3 linked regions of the Homo sapiens genome follow. The protein of the gene in region 1 interacts with the protein of each later gene in a biochemical or structural test. Each region holds a gene or a part of one and is shown in the gene's direction. Other genes may lie near its edges.

Region 1 (8,243 bases):
GTGCTTAGTATTTGGACTATTTATACTGGAGCTATCAAATGTTACAAAGTAACATATGGAAAATAATATGTTAGACATTGTGAGAATTTATAGTTTAATTGGATTTTACTTATGTCAGATATTTTCCCCTCTATCATAAAAACCCTTAGTGCCAAGTATATAGTTTGCGTTCACCTTCTCTTGAATCTCCTGAAGGTGGACTTACAATCATGTCATAGGTCAAGTTAAAACTGAGTGTACACAATCTTGCTTTTTCTTCAGCCCTAAAATCGATCCTAGCAGCAATCACATTACTACATGACTGAAAAACCTAAAGTGTCTGAGTTATAATTTAGTGAATTTAGTCATTGAATTTGAACTTGCTCCTTCAGAAGAGTAGATCTTCTAGAACCCTCTCCACTTCTCACCTCACAAGGCAGAAGAAGGCATGTATGCTGAGAATCGGATGCTTTTGAAAAGGAGGAAATGCCATATCTTTTCAGCTGTTTCTTTCCATCTCGCCAACCCTATAAATAAGGAGCTCCCTTTGAGAGGAATGAGTACAGGTATAAAGACAATGGCCAAGGCAATAGCTCTAGGTTGGTTCTCCATACATCTGAAGATGCAGACATTCTTGTGTTGTGGGAAACTATTAGAGCCAGAGAAAATGGTTCGTCAACAACCTCATCAAATGTATTCTTTTAGTTTACAGTAAGAATTCCCTGTTCCTCTATGGCAGCCTTGTATTCTAACTTTCATACCTTCTCGTTGCTTCGTACTTTGTCTTTAGTCAATCCAAACCATCCCATGCACACTCCGCCTTCAAGTGTCACCTTTCCCTTGTAGTCATTCATGCTTATTCCAGCCATGGCTCATCTGTTTCCAAAAAAAAATGTGATTTTTTTCTAGTATGATATCAAATTGTTTTATTGCATTTAAGCTTTCCTCTGCAGCTACACTGTAGGCATGATTAGAGTGAGGTTTGCAAAGATTACCTCATTCCTCATCTCTGGCAGTGAATAGCACAGTACAGACTGGATATTAGGCACCTGATATACATTGGTCAATTAGTATTTCAGATCTCCAGAAAGCAAGCTCAGCATAGTATTTAAAGGCTAAGTCTTATTTAAGTCTTATTTCTTAAGTCATATCTTTGATTAAAAACACATTTGAGGGAAAAATTTAAGGCCTACTAAATTAACACAATATTTTTTCCTAACCCAAAACAGCATGTATACAAATGATTGAATACTGGTTCCTTATTGTTGAATAGCATACATAAAAGTTTAACTCTAGGTCTCTTTTTTTACAGAGTGTAAATTGTCCTGTGAATCACTTTTGACCATTAGCAGTTATAAACCACCATCATATCACTGCTTTTTTCAAATACAAGTTGATAATGGTGATAAATTGAACATCTTTTAGTTTTAATTTATAATTTTGTGGAACTTAAGAAGGCACTAGAAATTAGTCCACATTTCCTATTTTGTTCCCATCAACTGAACATCACTGGACATTGTTTAAATTAGCTGGAGGAATTTGGCCAGATGTTGACACATAATGGTTTCTGTGACCCAGGAACTACCTGCAACATTATCCCCTAAGTTCAAAACTTTTGTGATCTCTTCTGAGTTTTGGAAAATTCCATTGCCTTTAATTGCATTGCTTGTCATGTAAGAAACAAAATCTATGTACACAATAACTTTTTACATTGATGCTAAAATATAGTGTCATCTTTATGAAGACTTATTAAGAGATAATTAGTAATCCAAATATAAATTAAGCTTCAACTTTGTGAAGGGTTACCTTTGTGAATAAATCAACTACAGCGAGATGCCAGTAGACTGGAATATAGAAAGTAGATAATTCTCATTTGCGTATATGTCCATCTCTTTGACAAACTCATACTTGGATATAAGTTTTTGAAGGATGGGGACTTCTCTACCGTTTTATCCCACAGAGCCTAGTAACAATGGCTAACATCTATGGTTGTAGAGGTTGTATACTACAAAAGGTTGAAGTCAAAGTATTAAAAGGAATAAAATCTAGTCTATGTCTACTCTGAAGTTAAGCTCTAAAGGGTCTGTATCTACCCAAATGAGAGACTTCTAATAATCTCCCAGAATATATTGAGGAGAATTACATATGATTCTGCTACAGTAGTAACTGGCATATAATAGGAGCTCAGGCAACACTTACGATTGATAAATGAAGAAATTGCTTTTATGAATTGCTAAGCTCACCTGTGTGCAACAAATAGCACCTACATATGAAGAACCCCATGCATGATAGCTGTCGAGTTCATCTGGCATTAAGTACCTTAATTTCAGGCATGTTTTTATTGAAAAAATGTGACATAAAACCATATCTTAGAATTGAAGAAACAGTGTTTTTGTCTTGCATAAAAATTTTTATACATTGTTTCCTCATTTATTTCTCCTGTTTATCCGATGCCAAAGGCAAAACCAAAACAGAAAGTATGAGAAGTGATTTCGAGTGGACCAGGACCTTATGGCGTGGCAGAAAGACAGCCACAGGACTACTTAGGTATATTATAAAGATAGAAAAGACATGTTGAGAGTGACTCTATGAGGCCAGCCTATACCTAATTTCTTACTCTTGTACTGTAATTTTTTTCTTAAGAAATTAGATGTAGGCTGGCATTACAGAGCTGCTCCTTGTGTGTTTATTAATTGATTATTTGTATCTGGACTTTCTCCACTTTCCTGTTATTGCTGTTTCTCAATGATTTTGTTTTGCTTTGGCTTTCTGTGATTAAGACATCAGCTCCACTCGCAAATAGCTTTTCAACTCGAGTGCCAATCACAGTCTCTGTATCTGTTAACCTTATTGAGAAAGGAGAAAAAGGGTCTGTTGGGCTCTGGCTCAGCTCTCTGTGAATGTCCCACAGCTGGCTAACTAGACAGGCAGGGAAAGAACCAGGCACAGACTCAGTGGAATGCCGAGTGGCCACATTGTCTGTCAGCCGTGCCATGTACCAGGAAAGGGGCTTTATGCAGGGCAGGTAGTAAACCTTTGTACTAAGATCACTTTTTCCATCACTACTCTCTATCTTTTTTCATGTTAAATGTGATTGTTTTCATGTTTTATAAATCACCTCTTAGGAAATAGTGGTATTCTCTTAGGAGATTTTAGTCTAGGGTATGTGGATAGAAATAAGGTCTGTGAACTTGGATTGGGGGAAAACTTTATCTTTATTTGTATTCAATTAAAACCAAAAGTAAGCAGTTTTTTCAGTTAAAATGTGAGCAACAAACTCCAGCAATAGAGATACCCATGACTTTGTCACTAATAGAAATGACAGATACTTTTATAACGTGTTCCAGACATTGTACATACTTAAAAATACCAGTTATGCTCGTCATCACTACATTGAAATTATCCTAAAGACCTGATGCTAGATCTTGTTAATTAACATATTAGGAAATAAAACATGTATTACTACATCACAAATATTTAAAAAATGTGTTGCACATTGTATTTCAGTATAATTGTTTTCATTTAAAATCCTATGTATTTTGTTTTATGCATTTAAAAGCATTATTATGAGAATGGGTTTTTAAGCTTCAACAGATGCCAAAAAGATCCATGGCACTAAAAGGCTAAAAAAATCCCTGCTGCAGAAATACAGTAGCACCATACTGTAGAATTTTCTAAGGGCAGTTTCTTATTTGTGGATGGATTTTCAAATATCTGCCTTTAGCCACTACATGTATAAATTAAATAAATATAAATATATTTAGTTGAACAATATGTATGTTTATTAAATATTTATAATGAAAAATAAGACATGAATTATGCTTATGTACATATATATGTTCATAGTTACCCAACAATGAAGCTTCAGTATATATGGTATGGTTTTCATGATTCATTAATACATAGTTATAGGTTTAAAACCTTGCAGAATCATAGTAACCATACAGAAAGCCGTTTCATAAGCATTAAATCTTAAGACTACAAGACATTACTTGAAGGTCAATGCTCTCCTTTTCACAGGCTACTCAAAAAGAGATTGAGAAACAGAAGGTGCACCTGAAGAGTATCACAGAGGTAGGAGAGGCCTTGAAAACAGTTTTGGGCAAGAAGGAGACGTTGGTGGAAGATAAACTCAGTCTTCTGAATAGTAACTGGATAGCTGTCACCTCCCGAGCAGAAGAGTGGTTAAATCTTTTGTTGGTAAGAGAAAAGGCTAGAAGCTTTTACACCCTTCTCTGTCACGAGAAAAAGATACATAAGTGACCAGTAACAATTCTGTGTTTGAAAATTTCTCAATTCTACGTATATGCTGGCTCTTAATTCAATATCTATAACAATATTTTAATATATTTTTCTTTATATTTACGCAATATTCTATATGAAAATACCACTTAAAACTAATCTCAATGAAACTTTATTGTTGTCTTTTAAACATTTTAGAACATAGGAAAAATTCTTTAAGAATATTGTCTAACCAATAATGCCATGGTATGTCTCTGTACAATTAAGGAATACCAGAAACACATGGAAACTTTTGACCAGAATGTGGACCACATCACAAAGTGGATCATTCAGGCTGACACACTTTTGGATGAATCAGAGAAAAAGAAACCCCAGCAAAAAGAAGACGTGCTTAAGGTAGCAAATAAAATATGAAAAGTAATGTCCAAATTGTACACCAGTTACTTCAATCATCTTTGTCCTAAAAGATACTAAGGACGTCTTAATAAGAGTAAAACAATCCTTTCTTCCTTCCTTTATCTTTCCCTTTTTCCTTCCTTCCCCCTTTGAATGGAAATGAATGATTTTGAAGAGTTCTGTAATCTGACTTTCTGTTCAAATCCATCACTCAGTTAATTATACCCAATGTAAACTCCGTTCAGAAAGATATTCCAAGATTTATTTTGAAATCATATTGCAAATTTCTGCCTTTGTCAATGGTGGTACTACATTCTTGTGTCTAACACAAAGAACAATCTGACACTATCATTCATTTAGCCCATCTGAATGAACACCTGAAATCCAGTCAGCTGATTTTTTTGCCTATGCCATATCCAAATCTTGGTAATTAGTCTTAATGTTGGGCTTATGTAAAGCTGAGGTTTTCATTTTTAACTACATGTAAACTAGGCTTTGGGTTCTTTCTTTTAGTCTCAAAACTGACTGTTAGGATGCCCTGTCTTCTTTTTCAAGGGGAACTTAATCTTTTCTTTAAAAAATGATTCCGATAAAAGGGTATGAGAGGTGTAATACGCAAATATACCTTATAGACACTACATTGTTTCTATTTGATGATGTCTCTTTTCCCAATTAAATAGGTAGAGTTGAATTTTAACAGCTCTCTTTTCAATAAACATTTTTTATTTTGTTTTGCTGCAATGTTTGATAAATTTATTGATTAGTTGTTTACTATTTAAAGAAAACTCAAAAATTATGTTTCTTTCTATGCAATTTATTTTTATGCCTCTGATATTTTCCACAGATTACGATATACCTTTAATGAAAAACTATAAATTCATTCCAGGCTATCCCCAAAACACATTTATGCCATTGTCTGAAGCTTATTTTGATGTGGATCTGTATTGTGCTCTTCATTATCCCTTGATGTATAGTCAGAGATGTCATCTTATGGTGAATTTCCTTCAAGGCTTTTTGAATAATAGGGTCTGAGTTATTTAACTTCAACCTCTGTGACCCGGCAGGTCAGGAAGAACATTCCTCAGTACCTCTGTATGTGACAGAAAATTCGTATGTGTTAGAAAATCACTTTTTTTCTTATGACACTCAATGTAATAAAGAGGAACTTGAAAGTGCTAGGAAGGAATAGAAAAGTGTTCTTCAGCTACCTGACCTCCTGAGCACATACTTAGTTCATTCCACAACTATTAAATTCAGTAACGATATAATAAAATAAGACTAAATAGAATATATTATGATAGTTGCAACAACATAGTTGGGAAAACATCCCTGTCCTTCCTCGGACTAAATAAACATTTTAAATAGACATGCATCAAACTTAAGGACGGTGATCTATTTTTCTGAAATCACACGCATTTTCATTTTAGTCCTGTTTTATGGAAGTTGTGGTTTTATCTCCCTTTGTATTTTCTGCATGTGCTTGCTCTCATTTTCTTACTTTCTCTCTCTCTCTTTCTCACTCTTCTCGCTCACTTGCTCACTCGCTCTGTTTGGCTCTCTTTTTCTATCTTGACCTTCATTAATTACTAACTTCAAGTCCTATCTCTTGCTCATGGAATATAGCGTTTAAAGGCAGAACTGAATGACATACGCCCAAAGGTGGACTCTACACGTGACCAAGCAGCAAACTTGATGGCAAACCGCGGTGACCACTGCAGGAAATTAGTAGAGCCCCAAATCTCAGAGCTCAACCATCGATTTGCAGCCATTTCACACAGAATTAAGACTGGAAAGGTAGGAAGATCTACTCCAAGGTGGAAACTTGTGCTAAATGGTCTCTTGCGAAGGTTGCGCAGTACTCTGAAAGGGGCAAGTAGACCCCACAGCAAGGTTTTCAAAAGGAAAATGAATGCCAAAATGTATTTAAGGAAATTTTACCACTGATTATAATGGGAGATAAACGCCACTCCTCCCCGTCTCTGTCTCTCTCTGTCTCTCTCTGTCTCTTTTTCTCTCTCATCTTTTGCTGCCATAGATATTCTAGGACTGCATTCTATGCTGCAGTTTACATACGTACTTTCAGGGGTCACCTACAGAAAAAAATAACAAATAGCATGCTGAAGGCCAAAAAAATAAATAAAACCAAAAGCACACAAGTCATCCATCAACATAAAGCACTACCGATAAATTTTGCCAAAAGCAGTACTGATACAATATTGCTTGTATGTAATGTGGATCAAATATCCAAAATGAGGTCTTGTACATCTTCTGCACGGTCTAGGGTGTTTTTTTACCTCTTTACTGGTTGTGCAAGTGTGTTTGTTTAACTTGCTTTTGCTAGTTGTAGACACTGTGACAAAATTCATTAGGCTATAATGAAATGATCACGCCATGAAAACAAATCATTGCAAAGCTTACATATCCTAATTTTTGTAATTTTATATGCCTATTTATATTACTGTTTAAGAAGAACCAGGGAATATGGAACTTTTGCGTGATAGACTTTATATTTGTGTATGATTTGATGAAGAGAAAGTCTTATTTAATAAGTAGTTTGCAAAAATGTATAAATATAGTGTTATAGAATTTCAGCTCTTTGGGAAGATTTGAAATGCAAGTAATTACCTAGAAATTTATATACTGTAGTTTGATAAATTTCAATATATATGATATGCTTTCAAACATAAAAATGTATATAAAATCAATATATGTATTTAGGTATATAGATAATTGTTAGAAATAATCTGAAATGAAAAAAACATTGGAGTATTTATGAGAAAATATGATGCAGTATGTCAGGTAAGTATTGATTCCTGGAAAAATAGAACATTTTCAAAAAATATTTTGATAGATATAAGCAACCAGTAATAGCATGGTTTCACAATTGCTGCACTTTCTAAGGCATTACAGTGTCTCATCATGTTATATAATAGTACATATTTAAAGTAGTTTTCAAAATAAGTGAAATGTGACATGATAAATTCTAAATAGTTTAGCTTGTATGCATGAGACACAGTTACCCTTCAAAATTCACCTTCCCAAATTAAAAAGTTGTTAGTTTACCTTAATTCATTGCAAGTTATTTTTAATAGTTAACTACTTAGTTCTCTTGTACTCTCTCTCTCCATACATAGAGACCTTATATAGTTGACTTTTAAAAGGCTATATTCTCTACATATGGAGAGAGACAGCATGAGAGAACTTAGTAGTTAACTGTCACAAATATATATATTTGAGTCAGTCATTATTACCTGCAAAAAAATGTGACAGGCTCTTAAAATTGATTAAAGTTTTGAAAGAATGTATTGTTACTTACAAAGACAATTGTTTTTACTTCTAAAGATATCAATGGCTTATGTAATAACAAGACAATGAATGGAGATTTATTTCAATCCTTAAAAAATGCTACTACTTCATTACTAAGATATAGACACACACACATGCACATTTTAATAAATCACTAAGCTATAGAATATTTAAGAGAAAATAAGGTATTATCTTTGGATAAATTGTGTTACAAGATTGTGGTTCACAGATATTAAAAAATGGGTAGAATTTGCTCTCCACCACAGATGTGACAGACCCAGCCAATACAAGTTTGTGACCAAGACAAGTTTGTGAGTTTT
Region 2 (8,243 bases), on another chromosome or scaffold:
GGATCATTCGAGGTCAGGAGTTGGAGACCAGACTGGCCAACATGGTGAAACCCCGTCTCTACTAAAAATACAAAAATTAGCCAGGCGTGGTGGCGCGTGCCTGTCATCCCAGCTACTTAGGAGGCTGAGGCAGGAGAATTGCTTGAACAAGGGAGGCGGAGGTTGTAGTGAGCAGAGATCGTGCCACTGCACTCCAGCCTGGGTGACAGAGTGAGACTCCATCTAAACACACACACACACACACACACAACACAACACAACACAAAAATTTGGGAGAGACACAGCTCCAGGAAAGATCTTTACAAATCAGGACATCCTGGTAAGACTCCAGGAGTGCTGACCTCACAGCCTTTAAGGTCCAAAGCCTTCACCAAGGCATCTGCCTGCAGGCAGTGCCCAGCCCAGGGGAAGGTGACAGACCAGATCTCAGGTGAAAAAACCCTGACCCGGGGAACTGTGCTTGCTAGTCAGCCTCTGTGACTAATGTACTGTACCATGCTGGGTAAGCCTTTAGAGCTTCATTTCCTCTGTCTGCAAACAGAAACAGTAAGATCTGTTATTGTGGCTGTCAAATAAGATATTAATGGAAAATGGTTAATGTATCAACCATTTATTGGGTACCTATTGTGTGCAGGCGCTGTTCTAAGTACTTTCAGGCATTTTTCCTATCTGCTTCTCATAGTAACCCGGGAAGGCATTCCTGTCTCCATTTTACCATGAGGAAATGGAAGCTCAGAGAGGATCAGAGATTTGTCCAAGCCCACACAGCTAGCAAGTGGTAGAGCTAAGAGAGAGAGGGTGTGAGAATATTTTTTATTTTTTTAATTTTTTTTTTTGAGGCAGAGTCTTGGTCTGTTGCCCAGGCTAGAGGGCAGTGGTACGATCTTGGCTCACTGCAACCTCCACCTCCTCGGTTCAAGTGATTCCCCAGCCTCAGCTTCCCGAGTAGCAGGGACTACAGATGCGTGCCAACGTGCCCAGCTAATTATTATATTTTTAGTAGAGACAGGGTTTCACCATGTTGGCCAGGCTGGTCTCAAACTCCTGACCTCAGGTGATCTGCCCGCCTCAGCCTCCCAAAGTGCTGGGATTACAGACGTGCACCACCACACCCAGCTAATTTTTGTATTTTTTGTAGAGACAGGGTTTCACCACGTTGGCCGGGCTGGTCTTGAACTTCTGACCTCAGGTAATGCGCCCGCCTTGGCCTCCCAAAGTTCTGGCATTACAGGCGTGGGCCACCGCGCCTGGCCGGCCGGTGAATATTCTTAATTGCTGAGCTAGATTGCCTCTCATGTTGCTAGAGCACAACACTACAAAATGCAAACATATTGTTGATCATAAGGAATAATAAAATCAATTCCACACCAATGTTAGCCTACCCAGTGCCGACCTATGAAGAGCATGTTATATGTGAACCTTTGAGGCCTTTCCGCATAGTTGAATGACAATGACAGCTGCCCTCTATTGAGGGTCTGCTCTGTGCCGGGCACTCTACATTCATTATAGACAATTTCTACAGACAGATTGCAGTAGTTCTGGGAGGAATCCCACAGGCAAGAGAGGTGAAATCACTAGTCCAAAATCACAAAAATGAATGTAAGAGAACAATCTGGATATGAACCCCGATGCCAAAGTCTGAGCTTGGGAGGGTGGGCATCTGGGAGGGCTGCGGGCGCATGAACCAGACCCTCAGGCTCTTGCCTCACCTCTGCACTCCCTGCCATCCCTTTATCAGGGGATGGAGGCAGGTGGCAATGGCAGACCCCTGCCAGCATAGGGACCCTGGGGTAAACTATGCAAAAAGACAAGCCTGGAAAGGGGCATATTTAAGAACTTCAGAGGACAATAGAGCCCAGGGTGTGATCAGTCATGTAAGGCTGTTTGGAGGTGAGGCATTGACACTGATGGGAACAGTCACCATTTGACATTTGCAAGATGCCTGTTCTGTTTGGGGCTGGGAATCGAAGGTAGTGTTGGCTTTCAATGAGTGTATAGTCTAGCCGGAGACAGAAGACTCAAAAAATCGAATCTACACCAGGCATGGTGGTATGCACCAGTTGCAGCTACTGGGGAGACTGAGGTAGGAGGATTGCTCAGCCCAGGAGTTCGAGGCTGCAGTGTATCTGTGAATCGCTGCTGCACTCCAGCCTGGACAATATGGTGAGACCCTGTCTCAAAACAAACAAACAAACAAACAAACAAACAAAGGCTGGGTGCTGTGGATCACGCCTGTAATCCCAGCACTTTGGGAGGCTGAGGTGGGTGGATCACATGAGGCCAGGAGTTTGAGACCAGCCTGCCCAACATGGTGAAACCCCATCTCTACTAAAAAATACAAAAATTAGCTGGGCATGGTGGTGCACGTCTGTAATCTCAGCTACTCAGGAGGCTGAGGCATCAGAAACTCAGGAGGTGGAGTTTGCAGTGAGCTAAGATCACACCACTGCACTCCAGCCTGGGCAAAAAATCAAAACAGAACAACACAACAACAAAAAAATCCCCCCCAGGCCCCAATGAATCTAGGTTAGGAAATGACTGATGTCCCAAGAGAAGCACAAATAACAGGTTGGAGGTCTCAAGGAAGAAAGGTAGTTCTAAGCATATGTGTTAGGGGAGAAAGTAGAGGAAGAGACTTGGGCCTTTGAAAGAATCTCTGGACTAGAAGTCAGGCTTGTGCTGGGCTGTTGGACAGCCCTGGGCTACCCACTCACCAGTCACCATGACATGGGGCATACACACTGCTCCTTCTCTGAGCCTCAGGGGCAACCTCATGGCTCAGAGAGGGTCAGAGGTTTATCCAAGGCCATACAGCTAGAAAGTGGTGAAGCTAAGAGAAAGAGAGAGGGTATGACTGACTCTGTGGTGAATATTCTTTTTTAAAAAAATTGTTTTCTTATGGAGAATGTTAATAAATTCAAGATGGTGAATATTATTGATTCCTATGCTAGTTATTAATTTATTCTTTCTTTCTTTCTTTCTTTTTTTTTTTTTTTGAGACGGAGTTTTGCTCTTGTTGCCCAGGCTGGAGTGCAATGGTGCGATCTCGGCTCACCGCAACCTCTGCCTCCTGGTTTCAAGTGATTCTCCTGCCTCAGCCTCCCGAGTAGCTGGGATTACAGGTGCATGCCACCATGCCTGGTTAATTTTTTTGAGTTTTTAGTAGAGACGGGGTTTCATCATATTGGTCAAGCTGGTCTTGAACTCCTGACCTCAGGTGACTCTCCCACCTCGGCCTCCCAAAGTGCTGGGATTACAGGCGTGAGCCACTGCGCCCAGCCTTATTGATTTATTCTTTCTACCTTTGTTTAATTACCACCTCCTCTATGCCAGGCACTGTACAGTGTAGGCACAGGGGTGAAGAAAACAGGCAAGTTTCCCTACCTTGATGGAGGTTACAGTCTGGTAGATTAAATATAGAATTAAATGAGGCCATCAGTATAAATTTCTCAGCTCAGAGCCCAGCCTGCAGTAACCAAAGCTAAGGTGACTATAATTAGAGCAACTGAACTCTAGGCTCCTCTGCCCTTACTTGCTGTATGACCTTGGACGAGTCAATTCACTTTTCTGGAGCCCAGTTTCCTCTTCTCTAAAACATCTCCAGGTCTGACTCTGGAATTCTATGGCCCTTTCTGTGTCCTTGGCACTGGCAGAGCCTCAGGCTAACTCCCTCTTAGGATGTGGGGACAGATTTGGTGTCATTGGCTTCCCAAGTCCTTGGTCCCCAGAAGATGAAAGATTTTAGGGCAGCCAAACACTGAGGGCCCAGGGCATAAATCTGGAGATTCACAGACACACTGCAGCCTCGAATTCCTGGGCTGAGCAATCCTCCTGCCTCAGCCTCCCCAGTAGCTGCGACTGGTGCATTGGAGCTGGGGAGGGGGATGCAGGGACACAGGACCCCCATGACTTGTGACTGTTCTCCACTGCAGTCGGCCGCTGCAGAAGGGCAGTCACCCCATGTGCAAGGAGCACGAAGATGAGAAAATCAACATCTACTGTCTCACGTGTGAGGTGCCCACCTGCTCCATGTGCAAGGTGTTTGGGATCCACAAGGCCTGCGAGGTGGCCCCATTGCAGAGTGTCTTCCAGGGACAAAAGGTACTGTCTCCAGCCACTTTTACCCCCAGCCTGGGCCTGCTGGGCACGGCCTGATGATTCAGGAGGCAGATTTGATCCCTGTAGATCTGCTGATCTGGCCTTTCAGGAATAGTCTCTCTGGAGGGACTTCCCAGGCCACAGGGACAGCAGCCCTGGCCTTCCTAGGGGAGGCAGCTGAGCTCATGGTTATACTTAGAGCCACTCGAGAGCACCTGGGTGTGGCCACAGGGGAGCGGTCAGACGCCCCAGCCAGGCCACTGGGGTCCTCTCAGGCCACGGCTTCTCCATCCCCCAGACACCTCTTCCTGTGCCTCTCACCTCTTCTCCAAGACTTCACATTCCCCCACAGCAGGAGGCAGCTTAGAGCCTTCTCCCTGGGTCCCTGGGCCTGTGAGGGCCCACCACCCTGTCCGTGCAGTAAGCCGTAGCCACCCCCTTTCCATACTCTCTCTTCCCTACTCCCCACTCTTCTCTAGGTCTCTCTCTTCTAGACGTCTCCAACTCTATTTCTTTTTTTGTCCCTTCTTTCTTAGAAACAAGCCCCTCCTCTGTCAGTTCCTTGCTGTGTGTTTTGGGCAGCTCACTTGCCTGCTGTTGGCCTCACCTGTAAAATAAGGGATGCAGTATCTTTCTAATATCCTCTACTCTGGAGCTGAGCTATACCCGAAAGAGGGGCCAGATCCCTACTGGAGGCTCTTTCTAGCAGAGAGGGGAGGGAGGAAGCCATGTTGCTGCCATGCCCCAGTGGGTAGGCCCTGAGGCTATTTGTGTCTCTCCTCTCCTGACCCCCACACCCCCATCTAGACTGAACTGAATAACTGTATCTCCATGCTGGTGGCGGGGAATGACCGTGTGCAGACCATCATCACTCAGCTGGAGGATTCCCGTCGAGTGACCAAGGTGAGCGGACAGAATAGTCCTGCCTGGGGATTTGGAGCTTTCCAGGGCAGCCTGGTCTCTGGGGAAGGCTCACCCATAGGTTGTGGCTAAAGGTTGGGGCCCGGAGCCTGGGGCGGTCAAGCAGGGATGGCAGGGGAGGGACTAATCCATTCATCCAGTCTCTCAACAAATGCTTCTTAAGCACAGCTGTGTGTCCGGCCCCACCCAAGATGTGGGGGATGGAGGAGTGAACCAGACAGACGTGGTCCCTGAGCTCAGGGAGTGTCCCATCAATAATTCTCAGTATTTATTCAGCACAAATTGTTTTCAGAGCACAGTTCTTCAGTGTGCTGTAGACCAACACTTCCCAAACTTTGAAGTGCGTGAAAATTACGCTGGGATCATGTTGAAATTCAGGTTTTGATTCAGTTGGTTTGGAATGAGGCATAAGAGCTGCATTTCTAGCCAGTTCCCAGGATTTGCCCAAGCTGCTGGGTCCACAGACCACATGTTGAGTAGTGAGACTGTTGAGGGCAGAAGGGAACTTTTCTATCCCTGAAAAAAGCTTCCACGATTTTCCATGTTCACTTGGGGTAGGGATCTGGAGATGAGATGAGGGGAAGGGGTCATCATAATTGCTAGTGGATGAAGAGTTGGGCGAAGGGTAGGAAGGAGGGGAACATTGTGATCACCCACGAGAGGCTCCCGGTCTGATGAGATGCTATTGTCACACCCATTTTATAGAAAAGAACATAGAGAGAAGGGAGCTTCGGTTGAGGAGGGTGCTAGGAAAGGAGCTGTTTTTCCACCTCTCCTAGGACCAAATGATGCAGAGCTTCCCGAATCCAGTCTTGGTCCTGAAAGGGAGGGAAGAGTGTGAACTGGGACATATGGGAGGCCCAGGAAACGTTAATTTGTTGAAGGTCACACAGCTAAAAGGGAAACACAGCTAAAAGGCAACAGAGAGCTGGGCACAGTGGCTCATGCCTATAATCCCAGCACTTTGGGAGGTCAAGCTGGGTGGATCATGAGGTCAGGAGATCGAGACCATCCTGGCCAACATGGTGAAACCCCATCTCTACTAAAAATACAAAAAAATAGCCAGGCGTGGTAGCGTATCTATAATCCCAGCTACTCGGGAGGCTGAGGCAGGAGAATCGCTTGAACCTGGGAGGTGGAGGTTGCAGTGAGCCAAGATCGCACCACTGCACTCCAGCGGGGGCAACAGAGCGAGACTCCATCTCAAAAAAAAAAAAAAAAAAAGGGCAACAGAGAAAGACAGGGCAGATCCCACATTGGGTGACTGTTGCATTGGTCTAAGAGGTGATGCTCCAATGACCAGCTGAGGTTGGGGGACAGGGGGAGGGTGCAGGAACAAGGAAGAACATGTTGTGTCATGTGACCCTAGAGCCTCTATTTTGGAAGAAGGGGCTAGCTGTTTTTCAAGGCATCATCCTCCAAATATCACTGGCGTACTAAATAGCTGTGAGGCCAGATGAGTGTTTTCTTCTTGTTAAGTCTTTGTTTCTTCTTCTGTAGTGTGGGGATGTATGTAGTGAGATCTCTTCTAGCTTTAGATTCCTTGCTACTGTCCTAGGAAGGCAGTGTAGTGGGCAGGGAATAAAGACCCTACAGAACGTGACCACAAGACTTCCGTCCTCAGGAGAACAGTCACCAGGTAAAGGAAGAGCTGAGCCAGAAGTTTGACACGTTGTATGCCATCCTGGATGAGAAGAAAAGTGAGTTGCTGCAGCGGATCACGCAGGAGCAGGAGAAAAAGCTTAGCTTCATCGAGGCCCTCATCCAGCAGTACCAGGAGCAGCTGGACAAGTCCACAAAGCTGGTGGAAACTGCCATCCAGTCCCTGGACGAGCCTGGGGGAGCCACCTTCCTCTTGGTGAGCAGGACTAGAAGGGTCTGGGTGGGGTCAGTTCAACTCTACAGCTCTAAGGTTCAAGTTATGCTTCCCCACTGACCACCCATGGGCCCTTGGAAAAGCCATTTAAACCTCTGTGAGCCTCAGTTTCCTCATCTGTCAAATGGGCATGTAACACCCCCCACCTTCCTCTTACTGATTTTATGATGATAAGATAAGAGGATGTTTATGAAATGACTTTGTAAGCTGCAAAATACAGTGTCCCATCTACAGACTATTAATTGAGCCCCTACTGTAGGCCAGGCACTGAGGTGGAAGACAAGGAGATAAACCAGACACAGCCCTGCCCTCAAAGAGCTTGTTGGGGAGGACAGAAAAGGCTCAGTTATAAGACTTCATAGTTCAGTTCAATAAAAATGTTCTAGGCTTCTACTGTGGGCCAGGCTTTTTGCTAGACATTAGGTATGAAAAGGTGGTTAGGATTGGGGAGTTCAGGGTTTAGGAGTTTTGGGATTGATACCCCTAGAATCCAAGCTTCCTGTCAAGACAGTGGGTCCTAGGGTGATGACCAAGACCTGTACAGACCACAGACAGAGGGAAAAGTTCCAGATTCTGCTCAGTTTGGGGTGGGGAGCAGGTCACAACTGGGCTAGGGAATGGCACCAAATATCTACCTACAACACCTAGTTCACTAGTTTTGCTGATTTCCTGCGGTTACCTCTTCTGCGGTCCTAATCCTTTGTTCTCTCTCCCCCTGCAGACTGCCAAGCAACTCATCAAAAGGTCAGTGTCTTCCTAGAGGCTATGATCCAAGCACCTAGTTCCCACCAGGACCTCTGTCCAGGAAGCCTCATCCTGGGCATTAGGCCTGCTGGGAGGGTCTCACTCTAGGCTGGCTTCCCTGACCCTTTGCATCCCTGACTTTTTGGACCACTCCTTGTGCTTGAGGTTGGAGAGGAAATACTCCATCCCTCCAGGGGAGCCTCTGGGTAGAAGGCCTGGGCGTGGCAAAGCATGTGCCCTCTCTTCCCTGCACTGAGCCCCAGAGACCTCATCCTGCCTCTCTTTCTGTCTCCCCTGCAGCATTGTGGAAGCTTCCAAGGGCTGCCAGCTGGGGAAGACAGAGCAGGGCTTTGAGAACATGGACTTCTTTACTTTGGATTTAGAGCACATAGCAGACGCCCTGAGAGCCATTGACTTTGGGACAGGTAAAGGAGGTGGTGATGCCACTTGTCTATTTGCCTGCCTGACCCCTGGAAACCAGCATCCCTCCAACTGAGCCCGATGGGGAGGCAGATACACTAATAAAGATCCCCAAATATCAATCAAACTCATATAGCCAACTTCTGGCCGGCTGTGGTGGCTCATGCCTGTAATCCCAGCACTT
Region 3 (8,243 bases), on another chromosome or scaffold:
ATCCTGGCCAATATGGCAAAACCCTATCTCTACTGAAAAAAAAAAAAATACAAAAATTAGCAGGGCGTTGTGGTGCGCCCCTGTAGTCCCAGCTACTAGGGAGGCTGAGGCAGGAGAATCGTTTGAACCCAGGAGGCGGAGGTTGCAGTGAGCCGAGATCATGCCACCACACTCCAGCCTGGGCGACAGAGCGAGACTCCATCTAAAATAAAATAAAATAAAAGCACCTACCGCAGAGCCCTGTGTTTATGTACCTTCCTCTCTTGATACCTGAAGAACTGTAGTTTTTGATTTTTTTTTTTTTTCGCTCTGTCACTCGGGCTGGAGGGCTGGAGGGCTGGAGTGCAGTGGTGCAATCTCAGCTCACTGCAACTTCTGCCTCCCAAGTTCAAGCAATTCTCCGGCCTCAGCCTCCTGAGTAGCTGGGATTACAAGCACACACTGCCATGCCTGGCTAATTTCTTTTGTATTTTAGTAGAGATGGGGTTTCACCATGTTGCCCAGGCTGATCTCGAACTCCTGAGCTCAGGCAATCCACCTGCCTCGGCCTCCCAAAGTACTAGGATTACAGGTGTGAGCCACTGCGCCCAGCCAAAACTGTAGTTTTTTACCCCTTTAACTTCAGTACTTACTATTGTGCTGCTATTGTGTGTCTTTTTCTATTTCTGGTAACAACCCTGTTAAACAAAATCAACATACTGAATTTTTTTTTTTTTTTTTTTTTTTTTTTTTTTGAGACAAAGTATTGCTCTGTCTGCCAGGCTGGAGTACAGTGGCCCGATCTTGATCTCTGCTCACTACAACCTCTGCCTCCCAGGTTCAAGGAATTCTCCTGCCTCAGCCTCCCGAGTAGCTGGGACTACAGGCGTCTGCCACCACTCCCGGCTAATTTTTGTATTTTTAGTAGAGACAGGGTTTCACCATATTGGCCAGGCTGGTGTCGAACTCCTGACCTTGTGATCCACCCGCCTTGGCCTCCCAAAGTGCTGGGATTACAGGCGTGAGCCACCGCGCCCAGCCAACATACTGAATTTTTTACTGACTTATCTATAAATTGGAGTGCATAGTGGACACATAGCCATCCAAAAGCATTCTAAGTGAACCAAGACATAATGAGCCACCTGCAACAGCTCCATTAATAAGTCCCAGATGCTATCCCGTCAGAAAAGGGCCACTCCTCTTACTAAATGGGGAATTTATACTGAAAAAAAAAAAAAAGCCACTTCTCATACACACACACATAGCTGTTAAATCAGAATGAAAGGCTTATTTCCCCTATCTCCCTTTGGTTCATTACTCCTAAAAGGGTAAGGGGTGTCAGGCACTTAATCATCATTGCATCACTGTGGTGTGATGTACTCAATGTTTAGAGAAAAACTGTTTAATTGGTTCGATTTGGCACAGCATTTACATGACCAGGTCACAGTCTCATTCAGAAGAATCTGGTATTAATTATACATTTTAAACTATGGCCGGGTGTAGTGGCTCATGCCTGTAATCCCAGCATTTTAGGAGGCCGAGGCGGGTGGATCACCTGAGGTCGGGAGTTCGAGACCAGCCTGACCAACATGGAGAAACCCCATCTCTACTAAAAATACAAAAAATTAGCCAGGCGTGGTGGCGCAGGCCTTAATCCCAGCTACTTGGGAGGCTGAGGCAGGAGAATTGCTTGAACCCAGGAGGCAGAGGTTGTGGTGAGCTAAGATCACGCCATTACACTCCAGCCTGGGTGACAAGAGTGAAACTCCGTCTCAAAAAAAAAATTTTTTTTAAACTAAAACAAGCTCAATATCTAGACCTAAATACATTAAGTTTGACACACACACACAGAATCACACACAGTCACATTTGCTTTCCATTCTTTCCTTCTCCAGGGGAAACAATCCAAAACAGAACATTTAAGAAATCTCAGGCCGGTCGCGGTGGCTCATGCCTGTAATCCCAGTACTTTGGGAGGCCGAGGCGGGTGGATTACCTGAGGTCAGGAGTTTGAGACCAGCCTGGCCAACATGGTGAAACCCTGTCTCTACTAAAAATACAAAAAATCAGCCAGGCCTGGTGGCACATGCCTGTAATCCCAGCTACTCGGGAGGCTGAGGCAGGAGAATTGCTTGAGCCCAGGAGACGGAGGTTGCAGTGAGCCGAGATCATGCCACTGCAGTGCAGCCTGGCCGACAGAGAGACTCTGTCTCAAAAAAAAAAAAAAGAAAAAAGAAATCTCAGGGGCCAAGCACTTTGGGAGCCCAAGGTGGGCAGATCACGTGAGGTCAGGAGTTTGAGACCAGCCTGGCCAACATAGTGAAATCCCTGTCTCTACTAAAACTACAAGAATTACCTGAGTGTGGTGGTAAACACCTGTAATCCCAGCTACTCGGGAGGCTGAGGCATAAGAATCATTTGGGAGGTGGAGGTTGCAGGGAGCCGAGGTTGCGCCATTGCCCTCCAGCCTGCATGACAGAGTGAGACTCTTATCTCAAAAAAAAAAAAAAATCTCAGGCCAGGTGCCGTGCCTCACACCTGTAATCCCAGCACTTTGGGAGACCGAGGCAAGTGGGTTGCCTGAGCTCAGGAGTTCAAGACCAGCCTGGGCAAGATGGCAAAACCCCGTCTCTACTAAAAAATACAAAAAATTAGCTGGGTGTGGTGGTGCCCGCCTGTAATCCCAGCTACTCAGGAGGCTAAGGCATGAGAATTGCTTGAACCCGGGAGGCAGAGGTTGCAGTCAGCTGAGATTGCGCCAGTGCACTCCAGTCTAGGTGACACAGCAAGATTCTATCTCAAAAAAAAAAAAAAAAAAAAAAAAAAAAGGAGGCCGGGCACGGTGGCTCATGCCTATAATCCCAGCACTTTGGGAGGCCAAGGCGGGCAGATCACAAGGTCAGGAGTTTGAGACCAGCCTGACCAACATGGTGAAACCCTGTCTCTACTAAAAATACATAAATTGGCCTAGTGTGGTGGCACGCTCCTGTAATCCCAGCTACTCAGGAGGTTGAGGCGGGAGAATTGCTTCAACCTGGGAGGCAGAGGTTGCAGTGAGCCAAGATCACGCCACTGCACCAGCCTGGGAGACAGAGCGAGACTCTGTCTCCAAAAAAAAAAAGAAGCCATGTGCAATGGCTCACGCCTATAATCCCCACACTTTGGGAGGCCGAGGTGGATGGATCCCTTGCAGTCAGGAGTTCAAGACCAACCTGGCCAACGTGGTGAAACCCTGTCTCTACTAAAAATGCAAAAAAATTAGCCGGGCGTGGTGGTGTACATCTGTAATCCCAGCTACTCAGCAGGCTGAGGCAGAAGAATTGCTTGAGCCCAGGAGGGTGAGGTTGCAATGAACCGAGATCACGCCACTGCACCCCAGCCTGGGTGACAGAAGGAGATTCCATCTCAAAACAAACAAAAAAAAGAATCTCTAAATCTCTCTTTTTAAAATTGTTTAGACATTGCTCTGTCACCCAGGCTAGAGTGCAGTGGCATGATCATAGCTCACTGCAGCCTTGAACTCCTGGACGCAAGTGATCCTCCCACCCCAGCCTCCTGAGTAGCTGGGACTATAGGCACACACCACCATGCCCAGATACATTTTTTATTTTTATAGAAATGAGATCTTGCCATGTTACCCAGGCTGTTCTCTAGCGCCTGGCCTCAAGTGATCCTCCTGCCTCCTGCCTTAGCCTCCCAGAGTGCTGGGATTGTAAGCATGACCCACCACACCTGGGGCATTTGCCAGTCTTGATGACCAAAATTGTTTGTATCCTGTCAATTCAGAGGTGTCCTTTGAATTGTATCTTTGATAGCGTTGACTGTGACTTTTGCTGAGTATAGCCTTTAACTTTGATGAACATAATCTTTATCTTCATCCCAAATGCCAACCAAACCATGTCACGGCTCCTGAAAGGCCTCTCTGCCTTTGCTCCTTTGGTTGGTCCTTCTTGCCCAGTTCAGTCCTTCTGCCTCTTCCTCCCTGCCTGTCCAGTTTTACCAATTCTTTTTTTTTTTTTTTTTTTTTTTTTTGAGACAGTGTCTCGCTCTTGTCACCCAGGCTGGAGTGCAGTGGCGTGATTTCATCTCACTGCAACCTCTGCCTCCCAGGTGCAAGCAGTTATCCTGCCTCAGCCTCCCAAGTAGCTGGGATTACAGGCATGTGCCACCATGGCTGGCTAATTTTTGTATTTTTAGTAGAGACGGGGTTTCGCCATGTTGGCCAGGCTAGTCTCTAACTCCTGACCTCAAGTGATCCGCCCACCTCGACCTCCCAAAGTGCTGGGATTACAGGTGTGAGCCACCGTACCCGGCCAGTATTACCAATTCTTTAGGGCCTATCTGAAGGCCCATCTCCTCCAGGAAACCTTTTCTTGACTTTGGCCTCATTCACTTTGGTGTTTGCTCATGTTCTGTACATTCTGCCTTACACAATTGGGGATTTCCTGTCTATGCCAATGAGTTTACAAAGTCCTTGAGAGCAGGGACTGTGCCTCTTACTTCTCTAGTGCCTTGCACAGCCTACACACACTTGCCAGTATGAGTGTTCAGTGGGTACTCGAGGAATTAAATCGAACAGATGTCAAGGAGTGTTATGGTCATTTCTGCCTCATCTCAGTGACCAAAACAAAACACACTTCTTTTTTTTTTTTTTTTGAGACAGTCTTGCTCTGTCGCCCAGGGTGGAGTGCAGTGGTGCAATCTTGGCTCACTGCAACGTCCGCCTCCCGGGTGCAAGCAATTCTCCTGCCTCAGCCTCCTGAGTAGCTGGGATTACAGGCACCCGCCACCACACCCAGCTAATTTTTATATTTTTAGTAGAGACGGGGTTTCACCATGTTGGTCAGGCTGGTCTCAAACCCCTGACTTTGCGATCCGCCTGCCTCGGCCTCCCAAAGTGCTGGGATTACAGGCGTGAGCCACCACGCCTAGCACAAAACACACTTTAGAAGTTTCCATACAGGTTAGGTATCACACATTCTCAAGAAAATATTTTTCCTATTTTGAAGTCAGAAGATTCCCTTTTCACTTGATAACTGACATAGCAACTTTACAACTAATGTTTTTTGCTTTTCTTCAACAGGCTGCATGTTAAATGGCCAAGAGGTGAGGCTTACTATTCACTATGAAAATGGGTTCACCATCTCAAGGGAAAATGGAGGCTCCAGCAGCATATTGTACCGCTACCCCTTTGAAAGGCTGAAGATGTCTGCTGATGATGGCATCCGAAATCTATACTTGGATTTTGGTGGTCCCGAGGGAGAACTGGTAAGAGTGTTTCTGAAACACATGTTTATCTAATAGATGTTCTCTTTCCTTCTCATTACTTCTTACCCCTTATATACAAAGTCATGGACTGACATTCCATTTAGAACCATGAAATTTTAAATTAAAAAAAATTTTTTTAAAGATGGGGTCTCTGTCACCCAGGCTGGAGTGTAGTGGTGCAATCATAGCTTCCTGCAGCCTATACCTTCTGGGCTCAAGTGATCCTCCCACCTCAGCCTCCTGAGTAACTGGGACTGGACTATAGGTGTGTGCCACCATGCCTGGCCAATTTTTTATATTCTTTATAGAGATGAGGTCTCGCTTTGCTGCCCAGGATGGTCTTGAACTCCTGGCTTCAAGTGATCTTCCCATCTTGGCCTCCCAAGGTGTTGAGATTACAGGTGTGAGCCACTGTATCTGCTCTTCTTCAGTTTTCAAGATGGCATTGGGTGTTGGTTTTTGTTGCCGTCATTTTTCTTTTTTTTTTCTTTTTTGAGACGGAGTCTCGCTTTGTCGCCCAGGCTGGAGTGCAGTGGCACCATCTCAGCTCACTGCAACCTCTGCCTCCCTGGTTCAAGCAATTCTGCTGCCTCAGCCTCCCGAGTAGCTGAGATTACATGCACGTGCCACCATGCCTGGCTAATTTTTCGTATTTTTAGTAGAGATGGGGTTTCACCGTGTTAGCCAGGATGGTCCCAATCTCCTGACCTCATGATCTGCCCGCCTCAGCCTCCCAAAGTGCTGGGATTATGGGCGTGAGCCACCGTGCCTGGCCTTAGATTTTAAATCCTCTACTATTTAGTTCTTCCTACCAGGCATGGTGAAACCCAGTACACCACCAGTTGTCTCCTAATTGGGGATGTGAAACCTCACACCAGTATTATGACATGGAATAACCTTACTCCATAGTGCACTTTTGCCTGTGGCTTTAAGTTCCTAAGAGTTTCCATAGCTCTGGCACATTCTTTACCTACCTTAAATTTATTTTGCATCTTCGTTTATTAAGTTGTCTGTATATGGTAGTGAGGTAGTGATGCTTAGTGTCCTTTCTCCACAGACCATGGACCTGCACTCTTGTCCGAAGCCGATTGTATTTGTGTTGCACACGTTTTTATCGGCCAAAGTCACTCGTATGGGACTGCTTGTATGAGCAACAAAAAATCAGAAAAGAGCCTTGACTGTCACAAGAAATATTTCCACCTCAAAAAAAAAAAAGCACAAAAAGAAACTCTTTGCTCTCCTTCAGCACAGTGCCTTCCCAAGGACCTGCAAATAACTGCTGAACCATAACCGTGTTTAAAGAAGAGCCTACCTTTCACAGTCTACCTTGGCCAGATATTCTAGCACTCTAAAAGGCTCCAAAATGAAGCTGTTGATTTATTCTCATTTCAAAATATGGTTTATGAGTAATTAGGTTTATTTCTACTGCTAAAAAGAATGGCTCATTGTTTTCTTTTTTTTTCATTGTTTTCATTTTTAGACATAATCAAATACCCAAGCATTGTTTTCTTTTTCTTCTCCCTGTAGGATTTGTGTTGTGCTTAGCCTTGATCTCTTGTTCAGAACAATTGTCCCTTCCCAGGTGCTAGCTTGCAGCAGCCTGTTGCTTCCTGAGCATTCCAGATAGGTCGTATGTCTTGGAATTTACTGTCCTCACTAGCTCCTTCCACCATAGGAAGTCCTTGAATTGTATCACCAAAGGGTTGTTCCATTTGCCCTGGATCTCCCTCTATCTCAGCCTGGCCATCACTTCCCACCTTATCCCAAGCTTTGCCACTGTCTCTAGGACTTAGAACTTGTAAATTTGATTTGCCTTGCCTTCTACTTCCTTTCTAGTGGTGACTGAGTTGAAAAGCAAGTTGGAAGCCACTGCTTTTAAAGAAAAGTTTTGCTTGGTTTAGGTTTTTCCAATTTTATTTTTGTTAGGAGCCAGGGGATAAGATTTATTTTAAATGAAAATCCTCTTCCTAGGTTAAGCCATTTTTTTTATTGCTTACCAAATGTGCCTTTGGTTAGGGTTAGTGGAGCTTTATTAGTCACTATTTGAATAACTGGAAATCACTGCCATTTCCAGGAGATCACCTATCCTAGTTTTGAGGAATAGTCATTGAGGTGGGTTTCCTTAATGGCATCTCTTCTAGTAGGCAGATCTGTTTGAACAAGATAAATCCTAAAGAGCCAGCCTGCTTGAGGAGTAGACTTGGTGGGTGAAGCCAGCAATTCCGCACAAACGTCATGTTGAATTGTTTTGGGCTGCCCAAAAACAACAGGATGCAGCATCCTGGCTGTGGCCTGGCCCTTTGTGGCAGCAGTGGCATGGACAAGCAACTGCTAATTCGAGACTTACTATTGGCTTCACAGCACACCCTACAGTGAGCAGGGTGATGAGACCGTGGAACAGCTACCTGCTTTTGGTTAAGATTGCCAGATATCATTAGGACACAGTAGCAGCAAGAATGCTGATTTTGTAGTGTTAGAAAATGAACTCAGCTTGTTTTTCCTAATTTTGAAGGTGGTATATATCTGCAAACATTTAAAATGGTATAATATCATATAAAATGTCAAAATTAGCACAGTCCCTGGATCTCAAAGAATAGGTAATATTGACTTGGATGTTCTTTATGCTCTCTGAAGAAAGGTCTAGGGAAAGTTCTTGTTTGCTTGATTGATCAAGAGTGCCACGGAAGAATGTGAGCGCTGTGGAGGGTGGAGGAGGGTGTCACTTCAGATGGGGCAGGCACAGGGGGAGAAAAGAAGAGAAAAACACACCTGTGTGCAAAATGAGCTATTTGGTTTCAGTGCGGCCTGACCGATGGGGAGGACCCATGAGCAGAGAGAGTTCTAGGTCAACATTGTAACTCCATTGTCCTCCTTCACCCATAAGTCAGTCCTCCTTCCTCATTACAGTGAAACCAACAATATGCAGAGGTTGGGGAGAGATGCCTGTTCTTCCCCCAGCTTCATATAATTGTCAAAGTTCCAAAAATGAATTATCT

Evidence for each region. Proteins that work in one complex are often made in the same cells at the same time.
Region 2: of the proteins of DMD (region 1) and TRIM63, one has a biochemical effect on the other in vitro, tested with the Homo sapiens proteins (one study listed by BioGRID).
Region 3: the proteins of DMD (region 1) and SNTB2 interact in a test that uses a peptide from one of them, tested with the Homo sapiens proteins (one study listed by BioGRID).

The regions. Positions count from the first base shown.
Region 1 is NC_000023.11:32,360,956-32,369,198, reverse strand, and holds part of DMD (dystrophin), read left to right. Parts: intron 1-3,999; coding exon 4,000-4,179; intron 4,180-4,488; coding exon 4,489-4,617; intron 4,618-6,240; coding exon 6,241-6,411; intron 6,412-8,243. UniProt on the Homo sapiens protein: Anchors the extracellular matrix to the cytoskeleton via F-actin. Ligand for dystroglycan.
Region 2 is NC_000001.11:26,057,024-26,065,266, reverse strand, and holds part of TRIM63 (E3 ubiquitin-protein ligase TRIM63), read left to right. Parts: intron 1-3,932; coding exon 3,933-4,101; intron 4,102-4,905; coding exon 4,906-5,001; intron 5,002-6,643; coding exon 6,644-6,877; intron 6,878-7,616; coding exon 7,617-7,639; intron 7,640-7,939; coding exon 7,940-8,064; intron 8,065-8,243. UniProt on the Homo sapiens protein: E3 ubiquitin ligase. Mediates the ubiquitination and subsequent proteasomal degradation of CKM, GMEB1 and HIBADH.
Region 3 is NC_000016.10:69,294,528-69,302,770, forward strand, and holds part of SNTB2 (beta-2-syntrophin), read left to right. Parts: intron 1-5,062; coding exon 5,063-5,247; intron 5,248-6,304; coding exon 6,305-6,397; 3' UTR 6,398-8,243. UniProt on the Homo sapiens protein: Adapter protein that binds to and probably organizes the subcellular localization of a variety of membrane proteins. May link various receptors to the actin cytoskeleton and the dystrophin glycoprotein complex.